Regions from separate parts of the Homo sapiens genome. Here region 2 is linked to region 1. Evidence: fine-mapped expression QTL. Tissue or cell type: whole blood. Region 1 holds a variant in brackets; the other region holds the start of a gene. All regions are shown on one strand. Distances are between the middles of the regions.

What was found. PIP is the estimated chance that this variant, and not a neighbour inherited with it, causes the effect.
Region 2: KLRB1 starts here. The variant in region 1 is fine-mapped to the expression of KLRB1 in whole blood (TOPMed, PIP 0.91).

The regions. Positions count from the first base shown.
Region 1 is chr12:9,640,671-9,645,891 of GRCh38, forward strand. It overlaps the pseudogene LOC374443 and the pseudogene GOT2P3. Among named protein-coding and RNA genes, the nearest start is that of CLEC2D, 26 kb to the right of the region's middle. The variant C/T (reference allele first, on the strand shown) is at 1,992.
Region 2 is chr12:9,605,141-9,610,274 of GRCh38, forward strand. KLRB1 (killer cell lectin like receptor B1) reads right to left here and starts at 2,776. Exons shown (of 6, transcript NM_002258.3): 1 at 2,615-2,776. The coding sequence starts at 2,699.

The DNA of each region.
Region 1 (5,221 bases):
CCAATTGTGAAGCCAGCAAATTGAAAAGTTCTCAAAAACCAAAAAAGCAGTTTATGACCTTAAAATATTTTGCCAACCTAGTATCTGACCTGCATAATTTAGTCCACCTATTTACATTTTTATGACATCTGCTTTTTACCAATAATCTTTAAGGCTGTTTTTATTTCTCCAAGATTAAAGTCACGTGAACTGAAAGGTACCACAGCTTTTTATCTTCTCTTTCATAAAATATTTGATCCAAGTGCTTGTCTTCCTTTAGGCAAAATTAATTAGAGCTCTTTTTTTTATGTAAACATCACACACACAACACATATAGAATTACACAGACAGGTAGAAGATAACCCGGTCCCCATAAGATCTTTCATTTGCCAATCTCCTAATTGGATTATTGGCCTCTGGGTGCTTTTAATTTCTGGAGTCCATGAGAAAAAAAAGAGGTCTCTCCTCTCTTGTGCGTGCATTAAAAAAGTGGCAAAGCAAAATGAAGAAAAAATAATTCAGTTGACCAAGAAAAACCTTTTCCCAGCAAAACAAGGTCCAAGAAAAGGGAAACCTTTTAAATATGACTCTAACTTGGATATCCACTTTTAGTTAAGCTGAGCACTCCTTAAGAAATTCCTCTTAACTCCCTTATTATCTGAATTTAGCCACACCAAGTGGCCAATATTTCTGGCTTTCAAACTTTACTAAAGGCTCAGAGAAAGGAAAATCCAAGGCAGTTCATGGAGAGAAATGGAATCAACAAATAGCAAAAGGTCATGCAGATATCAAACCAGGTAAGACTCATTCCCTAAGCCAGGATTGAATCCAAGCTACACAGAGGCTACACAAAACCTTGCCAAGTGGTTACAGGTCTTGCTCCCAAGGATGTTAAACAAGATGGAGGTCCTCAGCAAATTTGCTATGGACCATACAGAAAGACATGCAAAGCAGACCAGATTGGCTACAGCTTCAGATCAGCCTCACAAATCGTCTCTCGCAATTAAAACACTACAGAGAGCCCTCTGCTCAGTCCTGCAGCTGCCCACTGCCCTCCTACTGTCCACCGTGGCCCTGCTGCACTCTGGCTGCGTCCTCTCTGGGATCGCTGCCACCTTCCACCTGGGCCTCGCAGCTGCGGCCTCTGCCAGAGCCAGCTCCTGATGGACCCATGTGGAAATGGGACCTCCAGATATCATCCTGGCAGTCATTGAAGACTTTAAGAGGGACACCAATAGCAAAAAGATGAATCTGGGAGTTGGTGCCTACCGGGATGATAACGGAAAGCCTTGGACGTGCTGCCTAGCGTCCCCAAGGCAGAGGCCCAGATTGCCACAAAAAGTTTGGACAAGGAATACCTGTCCACTGGGGGACTGGCTGAATTTTGCAAGGCATCTGCAGAACTAGCCCTTGGTGAGAACAGCGAAGTCTTGAAAAGTGGCCGGTTTGTCATTGTGCAGACCATTTCTGGAACTGGAGCCTTAAGGATTGGAGCCAGCTTTCTGCAAAGATTTTTTAAGTTCAGCTGAGATGTCTTTCTGCCCAAACCAAGCTGGGGAAATCACACGCCCATCTTCAGGGACACTGGCATGCAGCTACAAGGTTATCGGCTTTATGACCCCAAGACTTGCGATTTTGACTTCACAGGCGCTGTGGAGGGCCTTTCAAAAATACCAGAGCAAAATGTTGTTCTTCTGCATGCCTGCACCCACAATCCCACGGGAGTGGACCCAGGTCTGGAACAGTGGAAGGATACAGCAACAATGGTGAAGAAGAAGAGTCTCTTTGCCTTCTTTGACATAGCCTACCAAGGCTTTACCAGTGGTGATGGTGATAAGGATGCCCGGGCTGTGCACCACTTCTTTGAACAGGGCATTAATGTTTGTCTCTGCCAATCATATGCCAAGAACATGGGCTTATATTGTGAGCGTGTAGGAGCCTTCACTGTAGTATGCAAAGATGCGATGAAACCAAAAGGGTAGAGTCACAGTTGAAGATCTTGATCCATTCCA[C/T]GTATGCCAACCGTCCCCACAATGGGGCCCAGATTGCTTCTACCATTCTGAACACCCCAGATTCATGAAAACAATGGTTGCAAGAAGTGAAAGGCATGGCCGACCACATCATTAGCATGCGGACTCAGCTTGTCTCCAACCTCAAGAAGAAGGGTTCCACCCACAACTGGCCACATAGCACTGCCCAAACTGGCATGTTTTGTTTCACAGGGCTAAAGCCTGAACAGGTGGAGTGGCTAACCAAGGAGTTCTCCATCTATATGACAAAGGACGGCCGCATTTCTGTGGCAGGGGTCACCTCCGGCAACGTGGGCTACCTTGCCCATGCCATTCACCAGGTCACCAAGTAATGTACCTGGTGCAAGGAAACAGAGACGACCTTTCTGTCTTCAGCCTCTGCTATTGGGAGCTTCACACAGAGGATGAGAGAGAGCGGATGGTGGTGAGTGGATCATTTTCTTCAACCACGGTGTGTAACACTCAGCAATTGAATGTTTCTCAGAAAAGAACGTGTAGTGACACAGGGCAGAGGGATCCGTGGCTGGCGTCTGGAACATTGTGGCTCTAAACCAAATGCTCCCCTGTCCTTTTATCCCCAACTTTTCTCAAAGAGTTTACATGTACAAGAAAGTCACCACACCAAAAAACCTGTCAATTATGCCATTGCAATATTTCAGAAGCTTTAACTGAAGTGTCATATAGTGTCAGGTTCCTCATGAGAAATAGCACACATTAGAGGCTTTGAGAGAAGACCTAGTTCTGTCATGAACACTTGGCCTCATGTCTGTCCTCCCATCATGGAGCAGCCTTATCAACAGACCACATTGCAGAAATTATGTTTTATGAAAACCAGTAAGTCTGCTGCCACTACAGCAAGGAAAGGAATGCAGTTTCCTGTCTTATTTAAGAAAAAGAGAAGGCTCTCTTTTCTCCTTTGCCATTGCTGTTCTTTTCCTTATGCACAAAGATTTTTAATGAATGCAGATTTTTATCTCATTCTACTGCCTGACTATCAACCCCATCCTATTGGGATTTATTTAAGAATAAACATAATTTTCTGCTGATGCCATACCCTCACTTTTCTCAGCAAAGAATAATGGAGAGTAGGTAACTGTACTTTATCTCAGCATCCTCTTGAATGATTTTGTAATCTTCTCTAGTTGTGATGTTGTCTCTGCCCAGTTGTACCTCCTCCTTTGTTGAATGTGGTTGTGCAGTCACTCATCTCACACCGTGAGTCCAGTGGCACAGGGTGGTACCAGGAAAGAGGATATTCTAGGCTTTGTGTGCTGCCAGTTGGGTTCAGGCTTCACCTCCTGGAAACCATGTAGACTTATTGCAGCCTACAGATTTGTGGAACTTCAAACTTGAGGGAGATGATTTAGGGTATCTGGCAGAAGAAACTTCTAAGCATTGAAGCAGTTAAGAGGTGACTTGGGTGCTGTTAAAATATTCAGTTTTAAAAGGGAAACAGAGGATAAAAGTTTAGAAAATGTTCAGCCTGATGATGTGATAGAAAAAAAACCATTTTCTGTTTCTCCACTGTGCACGAGATAAGTGGAATACCTCCTAGCATTCCATAGCACTGTAGGATTACTACAGTTAACAATAATATGTTATATTGTTTCAGAAAGCTAGAAAGAGGATATTAAATGTTTCCAACATAAAGAAATGATAAATGTTTGAGATGATAGATATGCTAATTACCCTAATAGAATTGTTGTACATCATATCTATCAAAACATCACTACATACTTTATGAATATGTAGTTACTATTTGTCAATTAAGAAACAAAATGGAAGAAAGGAAAAAAAAACTGTAACTAATCCCGTTTAAGTATGAAATTGTATTTCCTATATTAAATGCCTACACCCACACTGTGAATAAATTTTATTTATATTAATATGTAAAGTTGTAATGTGAGAAATGAGCTTACGAGGTTGCATTTATGACAAGATTCTGTTCACTGAAGAGAAAGAGTACCTCAAGTATTTCTATTTACCATTAAAAGTAGAACTGATTTCAAAGATCTATATTCAAGAGAACAGAGAAAGAAATTTTAAGATAATTTCTGCAAGTTAAGGTTATTTGTTTTTAAATCTTACCCCAAATAATGCAAATGATGCCGTGTTTTCAAATTTTATTTTCAGTAAATCATCAATAACTATTTCCAACAAGTTATCCTGTAAATTTCACAATTATTTGTTATTATTTTGCAAGAAGGTAATATGTGAATTTCAGATTTTTATGCACAGTTGGATTGTAGTTGAGAAAATAACCTTAAGATCCCAAACTTCTTAATGTTGTGACTCATACACACTCATGTCAGAAGTGACCCACCACTGAGTCTGATGGTACCACACTTGTCTATTTCCTGTCCAACAAGGTGGATTCACCCACTTGGTTATTAAGGAAATGTCAAATTGCTATATGAGTTTTTAAATGCTTACTCTCAATGTCTGTGATATGGTTTGGCTGTGTCACCACCCAAATCTCATCTTGAATTCCCATGTGTTGTGGGAGGCACCCAGTGAGAGGTAATTGCATCATGGGGCAGGTCTTTCCCGAGCTGTTCTTGTGATAGTGAGTAAGTCTCATGAGGTTTAATGTTTATTATAAGGGGAAATTTTCCTGCACAAGCTCTCTCTGCTTGCTGCCATCCATGTAAGACATGACTTGCTCCTCCTTGCCTTCTGCCATGATTGTGAGGCTTCCCCAGCCACATGGAACTGTAAGTCCAATTAAACCTCTTTATCTGTAAATTGCCCAGTCTTGGGTGTGTCTTTATCAGCAGCATGAAAACAGACTAATAAAGTCTGTGTTTACCTCACCATGGACTGATAACACATAGTTCATGAACTGCCACTGATCCATGATATACACTTTGAGTAATACCACTCTAAGGCAAAATAAGAGATAGATATATTGTAACTGCTATGATGATGATGTTAGCAGGGGAACTGGGGATGTTACTATAGGCAGATCTAAAAAATCCAATAAAGGTTTTTTCACTTCAATTTTAAAAACTCTACATTTTTTACTAGTAGGGCCTTTTATTAACATGCCACCATCTAGCACTTCACGTAATATATGACTCTCCACACAAATGTTTGCCATTTGTTTATTTAACTAGGTAATAATAAGGAGGAAAGATTTGAGTCAGCTTCAGTAAGCATTTCTAACTGCAACAGACTTTGCAAGTAATCATTTTATTCAAAAGCCAAATAAC
Region 2 (5,134 bases), 36 kb before region 1:
TCCATGTCCCTACAAAGGACATGAAATCATCCTTTTTTATGGCTGCACAGTATTCCATGGTGTATATGTGCCACATTTTCTCAATCCAGTCTATCAATGATGGACATTTGGGTTGGTTCCAAGTCTTTGCTATTGTGAATGCTGCCGCAATAAACATACGTGTGCATGTGTCTTTATAGCAGCATGATTTATTATCCTTTGAGTATATACCCAGTAGTGGGATCACTGGGTCAAATGGTATTTCTAGCTCTAGATCCTTAAGGAATCGCCATACTGTCTTCCACAAGTGTGCCTCTATTTTACTATAAACTCTATGAAGGAAAATAATTTTCTCTATTTTGTTCACTGCTGTATTCACAGCATGCCTGGTGCAGAGTAGGAGCTTATTTTTTAATGAATGAATAAACTCTAGGGGCATTTTTGCAAACACCTTATCCACTTTTCTAACAGACCAAACCCTTGGCCATTTGGCCATAAGCAAGATCGGTTATCACTCACATCTCTCCTTCTGGTTTTGTTGACTGCCTTAGACACAATCACCGTGCTTGCTACAGAGTGACCACAGCCTCAGCAGTTTAGCCAGAGACCAATAGTGGTTTTACTGTCATTCAATATCAGACCAGTGTTCTATAGTCACATATTTTGCTCTGGCTTTATTCTACTCTTATTTTTTCTTCAGGTTTACTCTCAGAATGACATTTTATAGGATAATTATTACAATCCAAGTAGAAAAAATTTCTGCATCCATTGGTTTGGGATCATAGCAACATTTGGGAAGAGTCTCACTACCTCTATATTCATTTTCTGACAAAAGCCCACTTTCCACCTTTTGCTAGATATGAATAGAGGAAAAGAAAGACTTACTCTTTTCTTTAAAAAAAAATGTTACTCAACCAAATCCTCCCTATAGTTATTAGAACCCTCTGATTTCCTCTACTCTTATGTGAAAATTATACTGAAACTTAATTGACGGCTCTAAGACTTTCTTCTTGACTTAAAACTTTGAGAATTCAATAGTTTAAAACTTAAACAGTCTTAAAACAGCACAAGTCAAATGCTTGGCATGACATGGAATGAATATCAGATTGGTAAACAATTGTAATATTATCAATGATAGTAAATTCAGTTAGATATCAGAAAATAATAATGTGTCATAATAATTTCATGCTGATTTTCTGCCTCAGTTTCTAGTTTCTTCCCATCCATCCACAGGCCATGCTATCCATCATGTGTTACCTCACATTGGTGTTCCCCGCTTCTTTCACTCAGAATGCTAACTCTTCAGAGACACAGGAAAGTGCCAGTTTCAACAAATGGTAAGTAGGTTCGTTACTGATATGCTCGAGTATTTTTGTGGCTTGTCTCTTTCTAAGCTGTGATACTTTTCAAACTAGAAACTATCAGGTAGTAATGATATTCAAATCTTTGATCTTGAATATGATTTTTTTTCCAGAAAGTGTTCCCCTCTCTTGAGAGAGTGAAGTATGTTACTCATTAAGCCTACACTTTATATATATATATATAAAATATATAAAATATATGTATAAAAAGTATATATATATATATAAAATATATAAAATATATGTATAAAAAGTATATATATATATATATATATATATATTTTTTTTTTTTTTTTGAGATAGTCTTGCTGTGTCACCCAGGCTGGAGTACAGTGGCACAATTACAGCTCACTGCAGCCTTGATCTCTTGGGCTCAAGCAATCCTCTCACCTCAGCCTCCCGAGTAGCTAGGACCACAGGCACGTGCCCCACACTTGGCTATTTTTTTGTATTGTTTGTAGAGATGAGGTTTTGCCACATTGCCCAGGCTGGCCTTAAACTCCTGGACTCAAGCAAATCACCTTAGCCTACCAAAGTGTTGGGATTACAGGCATGAGCCACTGCAACTGGCCTACACGTTGTATTCTGAAAGGAATATTATGGATGAAAATGCACTGGGACTTAATCATAGTATTGATATTTTGTAGAGGAATTTGGAATAACGTAGGTTGTTATTACAGCAAGTTTGCAATGTGTCTTAAATATTCCTTAGTTCATACATGTAAAATATTTTTCCTTCCTTCCTTCCATCCTTCCTTCCTTCCTCCTTCTCTTTTTCTTTCTTTCCTTTCCTTTCTCTCTCTTTCTTTTTCTTTCTCTCCTTTCTTTCTTTCTTCTTTTCTTTCTCTTTCTTTCCTTTCTTTCTTTCTTTCTTCCTTTCTTTCTTTCTTTCTTTCTTTCTTTCTTTCTTTCTTTCTTTCTTTCTTTTCTTTCTTTCTTTCTTTCTTCCTTCTTTCCATCCCTGTAGAGCAGGGGTAACCAATAGGCAGTGTGCCCAGGGTAGCCTAAAGTGTTCAGAGTCTTTTAACCAAGGCTCAGTAAGACAAGTGATGTTTGCTTTTCATGCTAACTTGATTGAAAAAAATAAATGTATGAGGTTTAAATTTTTTTTCCCAAAGTTGTGATTATCTACAGGCAAGCCATGCAACACCCGTTAAACATTAATATAAAACTACTGCTCATCTTTAAAGCAATGATTTAAAGCCATAAATGTAACAGGAAGATCTAATTCTGGAAGACATACAAATGCCGAAAGGAAAATTAAAGCCACTTACCCCGAGGAAGAGATGAAGGTGAAGAACTTTCTGGGCCTGAGTCTGTGGGTAAGTTTAACTCAGCATATATTGCTTGTTGGTCCATGGCAGACAGAGGAAGGTGGCATTAAACTTGTGTGTAAGAACAAACTCTCAATTCTGTGAGGCAAAATCAGCAAAAGGAAGCTTTCTGCCTGCAGTACTTTGTTGTCTCTCTTTTGTCCCCACCCACATACACTTTTTGTTGGTGGTTATCTCCATAAATTACTGAGACAATCCACTGACTGCATGTTCATTATACCTAGCTATGTAATATCTACTTTCCTTAATTAACTGGCCTGTTGTTTGAGAAAATTCTGGGAGGCTCATTTGTTCTTGTTTTTCTAACCATCCCTTTTGTGTTCCTCTCTCAGGGCCAGGACCAGAGTGAAGCAAATGAGGCATAGCCTGGGGTTCCAATTTAAGGGGCCCCCAACAAAACTCACTAATTAACAGAAATAATATTTAGCACAATTTTGTAAAAGTAAAAATTAATGCAAAAAAGTCCATAATGCTATTCAAAGGCTCTAAAATCTTCCTGAAATATCTGTGCTCCAAAGAAAGTTGTGAAATGTGAAAAATGGAAACATAAATGTGAGAAAGCCCCCTGAATAACACAACAGAAAAAGCAATGTGCTAAAGATCAGTAGCCTACTGTTAGCTTAGCTCTAAAGGCACTCTTGGATATGATAGCATTTTCACATAAGTAAAAGTATTTGGAAACTGCCAGAATTGTAGGAAGTGGAGTATATGGAATTTTTTATCTCTTTGAAAGACTTTCTTTTTTTTTCAAGGTGATTATAGTATGTGTCTACTTTTTTTTTTTTACCTTTTTTTATTATTATTATACTTTAAGTTCACAATGTACAGGTTTGTTACATATGTATACATGTGCCATGTTGGTGTGCTGCACCCGTTAACTTGTCATTTACATTAGGTATATCTCCTAATGCTATCCCTCCCCCCTCCCCCCACCCCACGACAGGCCCCGGTGTGTGGTGTTCCCCTCCCTGTGTCCAAATATTCTCATTGTTCAATTCCAACCTATGAGTGAGAACATGCGGTGTTTGGTTTTCTGTCCTTGCAATAGTTTGCTCAGAATGATGGTTTCCAGCTTCATCCATGTCCCTACAAAGGACATGAACTCATCCTTTTTTATGGCTGCATACTATTCCATGGTGCATATGTGCCATATATTCTTAATCCAGTCTATCATTGATAGACATTTGGGATGGTTCACGAGTCTTTGCTATTGTGAATAGTGCCACAATAAACATATGTGTGCATGTGTCTTTATAGCAGCGTGATTTATAATCCTTTGGGTATATACCCAGTAATGAGATGGCTGGGTCAAATTCTAGTTCTAGTCCCTCGAGGAATCGCCACACTGTCTTCCACAATGGTTGAACTAGTTTAGAGTCCCACCAACAGTGTAAAAGTGTTCCTATTTCTCCACATCCTCTCCAGCACCTGTTTTTTCCTGACTTTTTAATGACTGTCATTCTAACTGGTGTGAGATGGTATCTCATTGTGGTTTAGATTTGCATTTCTCTGATGGCCAGTGATGATGAGCATTTTTTCATGTGTCTGTTGCCTGCATAAATGTTTTCTTTTGAGAAGTGTCTGTTCATATCCTTTGCCCATTTTTTGATGGGGTTGGTTGATTTTTTCTTGTAAATTTATGTAAGTTCTTTGTAGATTCTGGATATTAGCCGTTTGTCAGATGGGTAGATTGTAAAAATTTTCTCCCATTCTGTAGGTTGTCTGTTCACTCTGATGGTAGTTTCTTTTGCTGTGCAGAAGCTCTTTAATTTAGTTAGATCCCATTGGTCAATTTTGGCTTTTGTTGCCATTGTTATTGGTGTTTTAGTCATGAAGTCCTTCCCATGCCTGTTGCCTGAATGGTATTGCCTAGGTTTTCTTCTAGGGTTTTTATGGTTTTAGATCTAACATTTAAGTTTTTAATCCATCTTGAATTAATTTTTTATAAGGTGTAAGGAAGGGATCCAGTTTCAGCTTTCTATATATGGCTAGCCAGTTTTCCCAGCACCATTTATTAAATAGGGAATCCTTTCCCCATTTCTCGTTTTTGTCAGATTTGTCAAAGATCAGATGGTTGTAGATATGTGGTATTATTTCCGGGGGCTCTGTTCTGTTCCATTGGTCTATATCTCTGTTTTGGTACCAGTACCATGTTGTTTTGGTTGCTGTTGCCTTGGAGTATAGTTTGAAGTCAGGTAGCGTGATGCCTCCAGCTTTGTTCTTTTGACTTAGGTTTGTCTTGGCAATGTGGGACCTTTTTTGGTTCCATATGAACTTTAAAGTAGTTTTTTCCAATTCTGTGAAGAAAGTCATTGGTAGCTTGATGGGGATGGCATTGAATCTATAAATTACCTTGGGCAGTATGGCCATATTCACAATACTGATTCTTCCTATCCGTAAGCATAGAATGATCTTCCATTTATTTGTGTCCTCTTTTATTTCATTGAGCAGTGGTTTGTA